2 linked regions of the Homo sapiens genome follow. The protein of the gene in region 2 interacts with the protein of the main gene of each other region in a biochemical or structural test. Each region holds a gene or a part of one and is shown on either strand. Other genes may lie near its edges.

Region 1 (7,371 bases), on a different chromosome or scaffold from region 2:
TCCCTATGCTTCCCCTATCCCAGCTGGAACACTTTCCTGCCGGCTCTTTTCTCTGCTGCCTGAGTTGGACATTATAAGGAGGAAGGCAGCTCACCTGAGGGTGGTAGACACTCAGGGACTTGACCTTGTGAAGGGGAAGTAGGACACGGATGAGGAACATCTTGTGCTCTTCTTTAAGGGGCAGGGCAAAGCCATTGATGATGCTAGGAATTAAGGGACATTTGTTAGGACCAGAGGGTCAGATCCAAGTTCAGTACACCAATCCTGCCAACCTTTTTCAGGCATCTGTGCCCCCACCCGGCCTCTCACCTGCCCAGGATCTCCAGGAGCTCAGCAATCCCGTTGTGATGCTCCGTCTCGTAGATGAACCTGAGGGAAGAAAAATGGCTCTCTTGACAACCCCTGATGTCCCTCCAGCATTCTGTACAGTCCCCCCACCTCCCTGCTCCCACCCCACCTCAGTAGCAGAAGGTTTTGCTCCTAAGCCTGGGCTCCTGGCCTCACCTGTAGAAGATGTGGTTGATCTGCCTACGGATATAAGCCCGGAGCCCCAAAAACTTGCCATAGATGCGATGCAAAATGGTCTTGAGGAAGTCCCGCTCTCGAGGATCCTCACTGTCAAATAGGTCTAGGAGCTGGGGGTACAAGGGAGGGAAAGCAGCCAGTGAGGCAGCAGCCAGGGAAGGCAGTGGCCAGGGTGACATAGGTCCCGCCAGGGGAAATGCAGAGGTCCCCTGGAGTGGGGGCCAGCAAGTCTTAGAAAGCAGTGATTCTATTATATTGCTGATTCTATTGTATTTGTACTGAGACTTCCAAAGTGATGCCTCACTATTGACCTGAGAGAGGTACTCTGTTGCTTTTTTGTTTCCTACCATTATGTTGTTAGTTTCTTAAGGCCAGAGTAGGGTTTTGTTTTGTTTTGTTTTTTACCCTTTATAGCCTCCTCGTACCAGACATGGATGAAACCCAATATATTCAGCTTAAGGGGAAAGAGCCACTGGGACACAGATGAAGGGGGCATGGAATGGAAAGAGAGGGCAAGGACAGGAACTCGGGGACTCACAGCAAGTACAAACTTCTGGTCGATGTACTTCTTGGCTATGTTTGGCTGGAAATCAGGAGACTCAAGGAAACGTAAGAAGAACTCATACACGAGCTATAGGGGAAAAGGCACGCCACTGAGGGGATGTTCCCAAGGACTTGCAGGCCTCCAAGTGCCCCACTCCCTGCAGCCACGGCCAATCTGCCCCCTTGCCCTGGTACCTGGAGATGTGGCCAAGCAGCTTCCAGGGTGGGCTCATCTTCCTCTGGGTCAAACTCAGCCCCTGTGGGATTCGATGAAGGTGGCAGCGTCCGGAAGAGGTTCACTGAAAACTGAGGGGTAGGGCCAGTTAGAGCTCCACCTGGGCTTCTCCAGAGCCCCTCACCAGTCCCCCCTGTGTCCTTTCCCTGTGCCCACCATGGTGACAGCCTCAGGGTAAATGGCCTCAGTGACAACATCACGGCTATGGGTGATGTACTCCACCATCTCGTTGAGTCCTGCCCGCTTCACCTCCTTGAATTTGAGGTCACTGAGTGGGTCTGACACGAAGTCAAAGAGGACACAGCACTGGCGTAGCTTCTGGATAAACAGCTCCTCCCGCTCCTGGGTTGGCGAATCTGTGGGGGCCCCAGCAGTCAGGTTCTCCTCTGTAGTCCTTCACTGCGATGCCCTGCTTGCCTTCAAGGGCTTTCCCTTACCCCACCCTGCCACCATCCTGCTCCCTGGCACCCCCTTCCCGCATTCTCTGGAACTCCCTTCCCCGCAAAATACCCCAAAACTTCCATTCCACCAACTCCCGATGCCCACTAGAACTGGTAAAACAGCCCCTGTGACCAATTGCCAAGTACCTTTCAGGGCAGGAAGCTTCTGCAGCTCCCGATTCTTGCTGAGGTTGAAGCGGGAGGAGCTTTGCCGTCGCTCCTTCTTGACAATCTGGGGCCCCCCTGAGTACTTGATTTTGCTGAGCTGCGTGGGGGGCGGCGTGCTATTGCTGGGACGCTTGTTGGATGACGGTGGCTGAGACTGGGCTTGGGGCTGGGGCTGGGGCTGGGGCTGCGGCTGGGCCTGGTCAAACAAGTCACCTGTTGAAATCCACTTCCCAAGATATGCCTCCCACCCTGGGCCTGGCCATCCCCAAGTCTGTTTATGCCTGCACAGGCCTGGGCAGTGAGCAGCTGTCTCCTGCCCCGAAGGAGCTAAGGCCAGGGTTACAGAGATAACTGTGCTGTAGCCCTGGCAGGGAGCAGTCAAGAAGTCACATCACCCAAAGAGATGCCCACTGCTTGTGCATCAAGAGCCTTTAAAACGTTCATTCCAGTTCATGAACAGGTAAAGCTAATTGATAGATTGATGGTGACAGAAGTCAAAAAAGTGATTACGTTGCCAGGGGAAATGGGGTGGGTATTGCTAAGAAGACACATGATGAATAAGAAGACACATGAGGAATAAGAAGAGACATGAGGAGCCTTCTGAGTAATGTAAACATCCTGTATCTTGACTGGACCTGCAAGGTGGTGCATGGCAGATACATACCTAAAATTTATTGAGCAGTACACTTAAGATCCTTTACTGAATGTATGACAGTCTCCAATCAAAAGGTAGAAGAGGCCGGGCGCAGTGGCTCACACTTGTAATCCCAGCACTTTGGGAGGCCGAGGAGGGCAGATCACCTGAGGTCAAGAGTTCAAGACCAGCCAGGCCAACATGGTGAAACCCCATCTCTACTAAAAATACAAACATTAGCCAGGCGTGGTGGCAGGCGCCTGTAATCCCAGCTACTTGGGAGGCTGAGGCAGGAGAATCGCTTGAACCCAGGAGGCGGAGGTTGCAGTGAGCCGAGATCATGCCATTGCACTCCAGCCTGGGGGACAAGAGCGAGACTTTGTCTCAAAAAAAAAAAACAAAACAAAAGGTAAAAGAAAGGCCAGGCACAGTGGCCAAAGCCTGTAATCCCAACACTTTGGGAAGCCAAAGCAGGAGGATTACTTGAAGCCAGAAGTTTGAAACCAGCCTGAACAACGTAGCAAGACCCCATCTCTACAAAAAATTTTTTTTAATTAGCCAGGTGTGGTGGCACATGCCTGCAGTTCCAGCTACTCAGGAAGCTTACTGGAGTTCCAGCTACTCAAGGTTGGAGGATCCCTTGCGCCCAGGAGTTCAAGTCTCCCATGAGCTATGATCACACCAACTGCACTCCAGCCTGAACAACAAAACAACACTGTCTCTAAAGATAAAAATTTTCAAATTTAAAAAGGTAAAAGAAAGAAATTCATTCCCATGTCTTAGGACTTTACTAGAAATTTAGCTTAATAAAAATCCTAAATTAAAAAAAAAAAGCTTTGGAGGAGACAGAGGTAGCCAGGCAAAAAGAAAAAAAAAAAAAAAAGCTTTGTGCACAAATACTTTTAACAACCTCATTTATAACAGAAAATGAATAAATGGAATATCAGGAGTTAATATTATGTTTATAAAAACTATGGGCCAGGTGCAGTGAGTGGCTCATGCCTGTAATCCCAGCACTTTGGCCAAGGTGGGTGTATCACTTGAGGTCAGGAGTTCCAGACCAGCTGGCCAGCAAGGTGAAACCCCATCTCTTACTAAAAATACAAAATTAGCCGGGTGTGGTGGCGGGTGCCTGTAATCCCAGCTACTCGGGAGGCTGAGGCAGGAGAATCACTTGAACCCAGGAGGTTGCAGTGAGCCAAGATTGCGCCATTGCACTCCAGCCTGGATGACAGAGTGAGACTCTGCCTCAAAAAAAAAAAAAAGAAAAGAAAACTATGTAATACATAGTTTAGTTGTAAAAAATATTTTCACGTTCATAGTAATTTGCCCAAAATGGTGGTATTTTTGGAGGAAGGGAAATGTCTGCAGAAAGGCATAAGAATGATGAGGACTTATTTTCCATGGTAGAAAGTCAATTGATAATATCTAAATCTCAAAAAAAAAAAAAAAAAAGTAGGAAAAGAATCCAATGTGAAAATCTAAAGGAATCTAATCTAAAGTAGGAAAAGAATCTAATGTGAAAATCTAAAGGAATCTAATGAGGAAAGAGCTAAGAGTTGCATTCCAACCCCAATAGTAGTAATATCTGAACAATGTATGTGTTATCATACTGATAAAATTTTGAAATAAAACAAAAGGCCTAAAACTACATAATGACAGAAAATTGCTTCCTATGCTAAGTTAAATAATGATAGTACAAGGCCAAGTGCGGTGGCTCACGCCTGTAATCCCAGCACTTTGGGAGGCCAAGGCAGGTGGATTGCCTGACCTCAGGAGTTTGAGACCAGCCTGGACAACACAGTGAAACCCTGTCTCTACTAAAATACAAAAAATTAGCCAGGCCTGGTGGTGGGTGCCTGTAGTCCCAGCTACTTGGGAGGCTGAGGCAAGAGAATTGCTCAAACCCAGGAGGCGGACGTTGCAGTGAGCTGAGCTCATGCCACTGCACTCCAGCTCCAGCCTGGGCGACAGAGCGAGACTCCATCTTCAAAAAGTAAATACACAGGCCGGGCGCGGTGGCTCACGCCTGTAATCCCAACACTTTGGGAGGCCGAGGCGGGCAGATCACGAGGTCAGGAGATCGAGACCATCCACCCCGTCTCTACTAAAAATACAAAAAATTAGTCGGGCGTGGTGGTGGGTGCCTGTAGTCCCAGCTACTCGGGAGGCTGAGGCAGGAGAATGGCGTGAACCCGGGAGGCGGAGCTTGCAGTGAGCCGAGATCACGCCACTGCACTCCAGCCTGGGAGACAGCGAGACGCCGTCTCAAAAAATAAATAAATACATACATACATACATAAAAAAAAAATACAGTACAAAACTAGATACACAAAATGAGCTCGCTCACATTAAAACACATGCACAGAACCAAAAACGAGGTTCAGAAAAGGTAAGAACAAGCCCAAGTCCACCACTGTGTTAATGACTATCTCCTGTAGTAGAATTAGATTACTTCTGCATTTCTAAATTTTCTACAAGCTGACACTGCTTTTTTTCTGCCTTACTTCCATTGTGTAGTATGATACTGCTTTTATAATGGGAGAAATGCAGCTAATTTTTAAAATTATCTCTTTTTATTTTTATTTTATTTATTTATTTTTGAGATGGAGTCTCGCTCTGTCATCCAGGCTGGAGTGCAGTGGCAGAATGTTGGCTCACTGCAACCTGCACCTCCCAGGTTCAAGTGATTCTCCTGCCTCAGCCTCCCGAGTAGCTGGGATTACAGGCACCCGCCACCATGCCAGCTACTTTTTGTATTTTTTGTAGAGATGGGGTTTCTCCACGTTGGCCAGGCTGGTCTTGAACTCCTGACCTAAATTAATCCACCTGCCTCGGCCTCCCAAAGTGTTGGGATTACAGGTGTGAGCCACCGTGCCCAGCCTAAAAGCTATCCCTTTTTAAAGGCATAGCTCCCAGACACAGGTGTTACAGCCCCATGAAGTCCATTTTCAGAAGTCTAAATACAGGTATTTGCAGGGCTGTCTGCCCACAGGTACTCCTGGACTGTCCAGGCAGCCCCCTGTTGGGAGAGGAAAGAAGCTAAACCACAGGACAGCCCTTGCCCCCAAACAGAGTCTAGAATAGGACTAGGCAGAGGCCATGTCCAGCTGGGTACCCTCACCACAGGGAAAGGGAAAGGTGACCTCTTGGCCTCATACCTGCCATCTCCCGCTCCTCTCCAGCTCCCATCCCAAACTCTTACTCCTTACCATAATAATAGAAGAACTTGAAATCCTCTGGGGTGGGGGAGGGAAGGAAGACAGAAATGTTATTAATTGCATCCTCTGAATTTTTTATAAAAACAATGATGTGGACTTGTCACCTATCTAGGGATGAGAGAACAGGAGAGGAGCACCGGGTCCAGCCTGTGGGTCCCGTGTATTAGACATGGCAAGGCATCTGGAGGTCTGAGGTCTCCCTTTCTACATATGGCAGATGAGTTGCACCTTGGGGTGGGGGAAGTGGTAGTAAGAGAAAAGCAGGTTGGGGGCCAGCACTTGGTGTGTATCCAGACACTCCTCTGCCTCAGGCCTCCATTTCCCTGCCTTAAGAACAACTAGGCCAGGCACGGTGGCTCACACCTGTAATCCCAACTCTTTGAGAGGCAGAGGCGGGCGGATCACGAGGTCAGGAGTTTGAGAGCAGCCTGGCCAACATGGTGAAACCCTGCCTCTACTAAAGATACAAAAAATTAGCTGGGCGTGGTGGCACGTGCCTGTAATCTCAGCTACTCGGGAGGCTGGGGCAGGAGAATCTCTTGAACTCGGGAGGCAGAGGTTGCAGTGAGCTGAGATCATGCCATTGCACCCCAGCCTGGGTGATAGGGCGAGACTCCGAATCAAAAAAAAAAAAAAAGAACAACCAAACCCTTATCTGTGGAGCTTGGTGCTCAATAACACCTTGGGCCAGACTGCCTGCCTGGGTTCAATCCTGGCTCGCCACTTATTAGCTGAGTAATATCCAGAAAGTCTGCACCTCAGTTTTCTCATCTACAAAATGGGATGACAACCATACCTACCTTATAGCACTATCGTAAGGATAGAGATGAACAGTTCCTCGCACTAAAGAAGCATTTTTTTTTTTTTTGAGACAGAGTCTGGCTCTGTCACGCACTAAAGAAGCATTTTTTTTTTTTTGAGACAGAGTCTGGCTCTGTCACCCGGCTGGAGTGCAGTGGCGCAATCTCAGCTCACTGCAACCTCTGCCTCCCGGGTTCAAGCAATTCTCCTGCCTCAGCCTCCGGAGTAGCTGAGATTACAGGTGCGTGCCACCACGCCCGGCTAATTTTTTGTCGTATTTTTAGTAGAGACGGAATTTCACCATGTTAGCCAGGCTGATCTCGATCTCCTGACCTCATGATCCGCCCGCCTCAGCCTCCCAAAGTGCTGGGATTACAGGTGTGAGCCACCGTGCCCAGCCCTAAAGAAGCATTTTATAAGAGGTACCTTCTACTACCACCACTACTATTACTATTATTTCCCATATCCAGGTTTTAGGAATGCAGCCTAGAATCTCCTTCCTATGCTAGCACAACTCAAATGTTCCGTTGAGTCCATTATCCTCATTTAAAAATGGGGGATCCTGGCCGGGCACAGTGGCTCATGCCTGCAATCCCAGCACTTTGGGAGGCCGAGGCAGGTGGATCACCTGAGGTTGGGAGTTCAAGACCAGCCTGACCAACATGGAGAAACCCCAACTCAACTAAAAATACAGTTAGCCGGGCGAGGTGGCGCATGCCTATAATCCCAGCTACTCGGGAGGCTGAGGCAGGAGAATTGCTTGATCTTGGCAATGAGCTGAGATCATGTCATTGCACTCCACCC
Region 2 (7,741 bases):
TAATCTGTAGGGGTGTCTGTGAAGACAGAAACAGCCTAGCTGCTCATCAAGTGGATCTGCTATTATGCTATTTTTATTATATGGTGTATTTGCTACCTCACAGCGTTCTGAGGATTAAATGAGAAAAACCTCACTTTAGAAAATAGGTAAGAAAGCAGCAGCCTATCAACGATGATGCTGTGGCTGTTTTTATTACTGCCCTGGGCAAAGGATTCTCTTGGAGCTCTTTGCCTGTTACAGAGGTGGGAAGAAAGGCCAAGGAGGGAGAGGGCTGTGCAGCCAGGCTGGAGTTGGGTCAGATGGGGGAGATTTACCACTCAGGGTGCTGTCAAATTTGGGTCACAGACTAGTGAAGGGAGGGTGGAGAAAGCAGGAGCTGGGCTCAGAAAAGGGCTATTTCCCGCAAAATCTGCTTCCCCCACCTAATGCTGTGGCAGGGGTTAGAAAGGGAGACTGCCTGGACGCCCTGCTTGGTTGCTGTGGAAGTGTGCGGGAGTCTGTTTTTTCTTTTTGTTTTCTCCAGCCCATCCTTCCGGAAATCACGAATGTCCCGTGCCCAGAGCTTCCCTGACAACAGACAGGAATACTCAGGTGAGTTCCACAGAGCCTGGGTGGGTAATGCAGGGTGTCTGGGTGGGGCCTCAGGTGGCTCTGCTTCGACTTTTCTGAGTCAGTAGCTCTCCTTGGGCTTGCTGCTTTGAGGTCTCAGGTGCCTTGGGGACTTGGGGGCTTAAGTGGCTCACATTGACCTACCCAGAAGCCAGTGATTCCCCTGTCTTACTCAGATCGGGAAACTCAGCTTTATGACAAAGGGGTCAAAGGTGGAACCTACCCCCGGCGCTACCACGTGTCTGTGCACCACAAGGACTACAGTGATGGTGAGTTCTTCTTCACCTGCTCCCTGCTGGCTGCCTCAAGAAAGGACAAGTTGCCATGGGGAGGGTGGGTTCGTCCATGCAGTGCCTGTATTTTCCTTCATTCCTGAGGATTTGTGGCCCAGACTTGAGGCATGGGAGACAGGAAAAAAACAAAAACAAAAACAGGGAAGATAGTATTTGTAGACCAGATGCTGCCACTGGGAACTCTGACCTTGTTTGAAGCCAGTGGTGTGCTCCAGGGGCACCATCTCTCCCATGTCCTCTTCTGCCCCACAGCAGCAGGTGGCCTGGGCCCTGTAGAGGGGTAAGGAGTAGGATACAAGGAAATCAGTGCCTTCGGGTGTGGCTTGGCCTTGCAAGCAATTGGGAGCCTGTTGGCCAGCCATACACCTTCCCTTTGGCCAGATCTCCCTGAACCAGACTACTTCCTAATTTCTGCTTTTGTCCTGATTCTTGGAGTGCTTGGGACAGCAGCCTCTGTGGAATGAGTCAGGTGGGAGTGCGGACGGGATGGGCTGGAGCTGGTATTATCTATCACTTCTGGCTGAGACCTGGTTTGTATATTCCGCCTTGTAGCCCGGGGTGTCTCAGACCTGGTTTGTACGTTCCGCCTCGTAGCCTGGGGTGTGACTTGCTCTCCTCTGGCCCTTGCACCCTTTCAGGCAGAAGAACATTTCCCCGAATACGGCGTCATCAAGGCAACTTGTTCACCCTGGTGCCCTCCAGCCGCTCCCTGAGCACAAATGGCGAGAACATGGGTCTGGCTGTGCAATACCTGGACCCCCGTGGGCGCCTGCGGAGTGCGGACAGCGAGAATGCCCTCTCTGTGCAGGAGAGGAATGTGCCAACCAAGTGTGAGGAGCTGTCCCTGGCTAGGAGGAGACTGCCCAGGTGGTCTCAGACAAGCTACGGGGGCAAACAGCTGGGCCCCTGGGACCCTTAGGCTCAGCAGGTGGTGGCTTTGGCCCAAATGCACCACATGGGATAAGCCTTGGAGTGTCTGAAGCCTGGCTCCACTATTGTGTGACAAGCCTCTTCTCCTCTCTGATCTTTAGTTTTTCCATGTTTAAACTAGGGAAGAGCACACCCTTCATCCCTGCCATATTAAGATATTTAGGGGCTTTGGAAGGAAATGCATTTGATCAATGCAGAAGAGCATTTAACCATGACTTCAGCCAATCCTCTGCTTCTTAGGACTCTGACTTCAGGTCCGAGTGACTAGGGCACTGGGCTTGCTCCAGATTGTGGTGGAGATGCTCTACTAAGAGATGATGGGTGCTGGGTGAGGGGGAGCCTGAGCCAGAGACCCTGTTCCTGGAGAATGAATGGGATATTCATAAATAATGTACACAAAGTAACTCTTTCCTTCTGCTCTCCTGTAGCTCCCAGTGCCCCCATCAACTGGCGCCGGGGAAAGCTCCTGGGCCAGGGTGCCTTCGGCAGGGTCTATTTGTGCTATGACGTGGACACGGGACGTGAACTTGCTTCCAAGCAGGTCCAATTTGATCCAGACAGTCCTGAGACAAGCAAGGTACACTTAACCCGTGGTCTGACTTCAGTTCCCTCCTTTCAACAAAAATGCCTGTCTTACCACACAGAGTAGTTGCCTGAGATGCTGTAGGTTGCTTCCTCTGTCATTCTTCCCAAACTCCCTTTCTGTCCATCCTGGTCCCAGCCACAGGGTGAAAGGACTGTGGTCTGAAGAGCACCAAGCACCTGGAGGGGAGGGATTGGGTGTAAGGAACTAAGCTGATGCCAAAGTACCAAGTAACCCAAACTGAGAGGTGATGACCTGTGACACAGAGGGGACTCCCTCCCCTAGACAAGTATCTCTCCCCAGCTCTCAGCCCAGGAAGGAGCTGTGGGGCTCCTTCACTTGGTCCAGCTCTAGAGGAGGAATCATATGGCCTGTCTTTGCAGTTCAGCTTTCAACGTCGCTTATACTTCAAGTTCTGTGGACAAACAGCAGTTACCTTAACTAAGCACCCACGGCCCCTTCTCCCACCTCCCTGCCTCCTTCCACCCATGGGAGTGCCACCATCCCAAGGCCTGCCCAGCATTGTGGCCAAGAGCTAGACAGTTAAGAGAGTCCCCCTTTTCTCCAACTGCAGTTCCCAAGGCAGATCCCTGTGAGGCCACTAACTAGGGCAAGCTGAGCTGAACCCAGGCGGGCAGAACTAGGGCCCTGAGAGCTGAGGCGACCACTGACCCCTCCCCTAGGAGGTGAGTGCTCTGGAGTGCGAGATCCAGTTGCTAAAGAACTTGCAGCATGAGCGCATCGTGCAGTACTATGGCTGTCTGCGGGACCGCGCTGAGAAGACCCTGACCATCTTCATGGAGTACATGCCAGGGGTACGTGCCCCTTGAATGCATGTGAGACACACACAAAAGAGGGCCTGACCTGGGGGCTGGGGCCTGCAGGAGGGGGGTCACCTTGGATAGGAGTTTGAACACCTGAGGCTCCAGAGGCCCAGAGGAGCAAAGTGAGGTGATGGTGGGACTTGGAGTCAGGAGGGCCCTGCCTCAGGTTGCAGTGGGAGTATGAGATGACAGCTGTCCTAGGTCCAGCACTCCCCTGAGGCATGCAGGGCTGGCCCACTGTCCAGTAAATGCAGCCTTCATCTGGAGCAGAGAGGCCTCCCTGCTCCTGGATTTGGGTGGCGCTCTGCTTGAGAAGGACTTGGGGTACTCTCTTTTCCAAACTGCCTGACAGCTCCTGGCAAAATGCCCTGCCCAGCCAGATAGGAATTGAACAAATCACTCCTTTGCTGCCATGCTGGGGGCTGGAATGGGCTTGCCCCTCCACCAGCCCTCCCCTGAGGGGACTCCTCTGACTTCTTGTGGCCTCCAGGGCTCGGTGAAAGACCAGTTGAAGGCTTACGGTGCTCTGACAGAGAGCGTGACCCGAAAGTACACGCGGCAGATCCTGGAGGGCATGTCCTACCTGCACAGCAACATGATTGTTCACCGGGACATTAAGGGTGAGCAGGGCCAGGATACATGGAGTCCCCAGGACCTGGGTTCAAGTCTACCATTGAGTGCCTGCAGGGGCCAATCACTTAACCATTCTGAACTTTCTGAAAAGTGGGACCCCAGTTGTTTCCCTGAGGAACTGGTGAGATTGGTTGAGCAATATGAGAGAATATTGCCAAGTTCCCTCTACATGTGGGCCTTGGAGATGGTCATTTTGTGCGGTAGATCTGAGACTCCCCTTTGCTAAATCCTTTGCCCTTTGCAGTTCATGTCTAATTCAGTGGTAGCCCTGCCCTCTCCAGCAGCTCTCAGTGACCCGGGGGTGGGGAGGATGGGAGAAAATGCAAGAGGGTCCAGGGTTGCAGCCTCTGCCCTTTCATGCCTCAGGAGCCAACATCCTCCGAGACTCTGCTGGGAATGTAAAGCTGGGGGACTTTGGGGCCAGCAAACGCCTGCAGACGATCTGTATGTCGGGGACGGGCATGCGCTCCGTCACTGGCACACCCTACTGGATGAGCCCTGAGGTGATCAGCGGCGAGGGCTATGGAAGGAAAGCAGACGTGTGGTGAGCACTGGGACATGCAGAACCCATTCTTCCACCCAGGCCATAGTGGCCCCCCATTAGAAACACACCCTGGGGACTTTGTGGTGTGGCAGGAGGGAGTGTGCCCAGGGCCCAGGCTGCAGTGTGTGCAAGGGTATTATTGGGTGCAGTAGCACACACACCACATGGGTGGTGCTCAAAGCACACTCCATTAGAGCTGGGAACTTAGGCCATGGAAAACATCCCTCATGTTTGCTAAATCTCTTAAGGAAGCAGGATCCACTCTGAAGGCCTGAAGGCCTGGACCAGTCTCTCAACAGGAGCAGGCTTCTGTCCCTTCTCCTAGCACTCAAGACAGTTTGCACTTGCTCGACATAACCTTGTGTCTATCCTCTGAAATGGCCCCTAAGTCAGGAGAGCTTCTCCCCTTGGAAAGCTATTGTGGTGGGCTGAATAATGGCCCCCCCAAAGATGTCCACTGCCTAATCCCTGGATCTGTAAATGTGATTGTATATAGCAAAGGGCCTTTGCAGATAGGATTAGGTTAAGGGTTTTGAGATGGATGGATTATCCTGGATTAAGGGTCCTTACAGAAGGGTCTCAAGAGGTCAGAGTGGCTAATAGGAGGTGAGACAATGAAAGCAAGAGGTTGGAGTAATACAAGGAGGGGACCATGAGCCACGAAATGCAGGTGGCCTCTAGAACCCAGGAAAGGCAAGGAAACAGGTTCTCCCCTCAGAGCCTCTGACAGGAACCAGCCCTGCCGCCACCTTGACTTTAGCCCTGTGAGACTGATTTTAGACCTCTGACCTTCAGAACTGTAAGATGATACATTTGTGTTGTTTTCCTGCCTCTAAGTTTGTGGTCATTTGTTAAGAGCAGCTATGGGTAGCTAATACAGTTATTGTAGAGTTCTTTCTGTCAAGTCTAAGTGATTCTCTTTTTCCTTATTTCAAGAAGTACCCAGGTGTGTGGTGAGTGTAGGTCCATGAAGCCCACGTGGACAGACATCCAAGCTGAGGTATCCCTCAGCTTGGCCTGTCCTGCACCTCAGCTTGCTGTGAGAAAGGCGCCTCTTTCTGCAGTGGTGGGCAGGACAGCTGGGAGTCCAGGGCTGGCTGAGGGGTGACACGGGGTTCTCTCTTTCCAGGAGCCTGGGCTGCACTGTGGTGGAGATGCTGACAGAGAAACCACCGTGGGCAGAGTATGAAGCTATGGCCGCCATCTTCAAGATTGCCACCCAGCCCACCAATCCTCAGCTGCCCTCCCACATCTCTGAACATGGCCGGGACTTCCTGAGGCGCATTTTTGTGGAGGCTCGCCAGAGACCTTCAGCTGAGGAGCTGCTCACACACCACTTTGCACAGCTCATGTACTGAGCTCTCACGGCCACACAGCTGCCGGTCGCCCTTTGCTGCATGGCAGGGGGCTGCTGCTGGGCTCAGTGAAGTTGCTGCTTCTCCCAGGCAAGGCTGTGGACCATGGAGTGGCAGCCCAGCCAGCGTCGGTCTGTGCCCCTTCCGCCACTGGGGCTCAGAGCCGGGGTGGGGTGGCTGCAGCCTCAGGACTGGGAGCCCCCAGCCTGTCAGATCCAGGAGCTCCAGTGTCCTGAGCTCAGCGTGGAGGGGTAGGGGCTGGGAACAGTGTGCAAGGCAGCCGTGGGCCCCACCCTCGGGGATGTGTCCTGACACTGCAATTGGCACCGAAGCCCAGAGGGTCTGGGGGCACAAGACTGACGCCAGGGTATGAAGAGTGTTATTTTCATTCAAAGTGTTATTTTGTTTTTCCTTCCAATGTCTGGAGACCACCAGGGCATCTCTGGGCTGGATGAGCTCCCACAAGCCTGAGGGAAAGGCCAGCACTCGCTAGCAGTGGCAGGCAGAGGCCCAGGCTGCCGTCCCCTAGAGTCCCAGGTTGGCTCTGCCAGTCCTGTCCTTTACCAAAGATGAATGAAGCAAATGTCATGCTGCCTTATTCAGGGAAGGAGGAGCCTGTCCTGCCTGTGGCCATGACCCTGCCTCTCCCAGGCAGGGGCCCGCGATGTGGAACTGCTGCCACTGAGGGGGGATCCAGTTTTGTCAATGCAGTTGTCTCTGTTTTACAAGTTGGAGTCACTCTTATGCTGTACCCAGTTTCTAAACTGGAGACTGTGTGTGCCCTCTGGGCTCTGAGTACCCCTGCTTTGGGCTTGGGCCTAGGCTGCATTGAAAAGAGCTGAAGGTTGTGGCCTTTGCGCTCCTGGCCCAGCCTTTGTTCCCCACTGGAGCAGAAGGGGAGATGGACGACACGGTCGGGGCATCTGGCCTGGCCAGTGCCCTGATCCCAGAGAGCCCGAGGAGGTGTCTCAGGCTGCCTGAGTCGTGACCTGCTAGGCCAGAGCCCACTCCATCTGGTAGAAGGGAAAGCCCATATGCTACCACCAGCTGTGTCCAAAACCGCCAGCTCTGTTCTTCCTCAGCCAGCCTCGCCCATCCCCTTGAGGTCTCAGCCCCTTTCCCTTGTAGCTCCTCCCCTGGAGGGGGAATGGCAGCAGGGGTTGGGGAAACAGCATCTCCAAGCAGCTTAGAGTTGGCCATATTTACCTCAGCCTGGGCGCTGGTCCTTTCTTCCGGCCCCTCCCCTCCAAAATGTGCCTATTGCTAGAGCTCCTCCCTCTCAACACCCAGTTTCCTTGGGAGTTGTCATTAAAGGAAAAAAAAAAAAAAAAAAGCCAGTGCCCAGGGATGGGCATCTCCAGGGAGCTGGGGATTAGTGCCAGGCAGCCCTGCCAGCCATGCCTACATCCCCATGGGCACAGAACAAGCCAAAGCCTTCGTTGTATGTTGACGATGCACTTTTATGAATGTAGTTTCTATCGCTGTTTTTAGCCTTTTCACATCATGTAATGTGAGGCCTTGTACTTGTTAATTTATATCTCAGATCATATTTGATGGTTTTTATATATATCAATTCTAGACTGTTACAGGTGACGGACGCCTCAAGAGAGAGAAGAGAAAATGAAAGCAGCTGGTTTTGCAGAAGTGTGTGTCGCATGCGCCAGTTGGGCCTGGACCCTCCTGTGTCCATCCCTGTTCCCCCAGGGGCTCTATCAGCCCCTGTACCCCACACTGCCCTCTGAAGACAACACAGGCTCCTGCTTCCACCTCGGCCCTTGCCCAGGGTGGGGCCTGGCCCTCATCTTGACCAAAGCTGCTGTGTGGCAGCTCGGCCTCTCTACGACCCCATCTTGGTGGCTGCACACTCTTCCTGGCCCGCACCCCCATCCCCAGTCCCTGTTCCCCAAGAGGATACAGAGCACGGTGCTGGCTGACTCAACTGTGCGTCCCAGGTTCAGGGTCTTACAGAG

The links.
Region 1: of the proteins of MAP3K3 (region 2) and PPP2R5D, one has a biochemical effect on the other in vitro, tested with the Homo sapiens proteins (one study listed by IntAct).

Annotation. Positions count from the first base shown.
Region 1 is NC_000006.12:43,001,199-43,008,569, reverse strand, and holds part of PPP2R5D (serine/threonine-protein phosphatase 2A 56 kDa regulatory subunit delta isoform), read right to left. Parts: intron 2,125-7,371; exon of another isoform or gene 2,108-2,124; coding exon 1,891-2,107; intron 1,660-1,890; coding exon 1,460-1,659; intron 1,375-1,459; coding exon 1,264-1,374; intron 1,157-1,263; coding exon 1,064-1,156; intron 636-1,063; coding exon 505-635; intron 370-504; coding exon 310-369; intron 204-309; coding exon 95-203; intron 1-94. UniProt on the Homo sapiens protein: The B regulatory subunit might modulate substrate selectivity and catalytic activity, and might also direct the localization of the catalytic enzyme to a particular subcellular compartment.
Region 2 is NC_000017.11:63,688,004-63,695,744, forward strand, and holds part of MAP3K3 (mitogen-activated protein kinase kinase kinase 3), read left to right. Parts: intron 1-523; coding exon 524-591; intron 592-785; coding exon 786-878; intron 879-1,089; exon of another isoform or gene 1,090-1,172; intron 1,173-1,540; coding exon 1,541-1,732; intron 1,733-2,260; coding exon 2,261-2,409; intron 2,410-2,469; exon of another isoform or gene 2,470-2,989; coding exon of another isoform or gene 2,990-3,034; exon of another isoform or gene 3,035-3,077; intron 3,078-3,098; coding exon 3,099-3,230; intron 3,231-3,729; coding exon 3,730-3,859; intron 3,860-4,238; coding exon 4,239-4,416; intron 4,417-5,545; coding exon 5,546-5,774; 3' UTR 5,775-7,741. UniProt on the Homo sapiens protein: Component of a protein kinase signal transduction cascade. Mediates activation of the NF-kappa-B, AP1 and DDIT3 transcriptional regulators.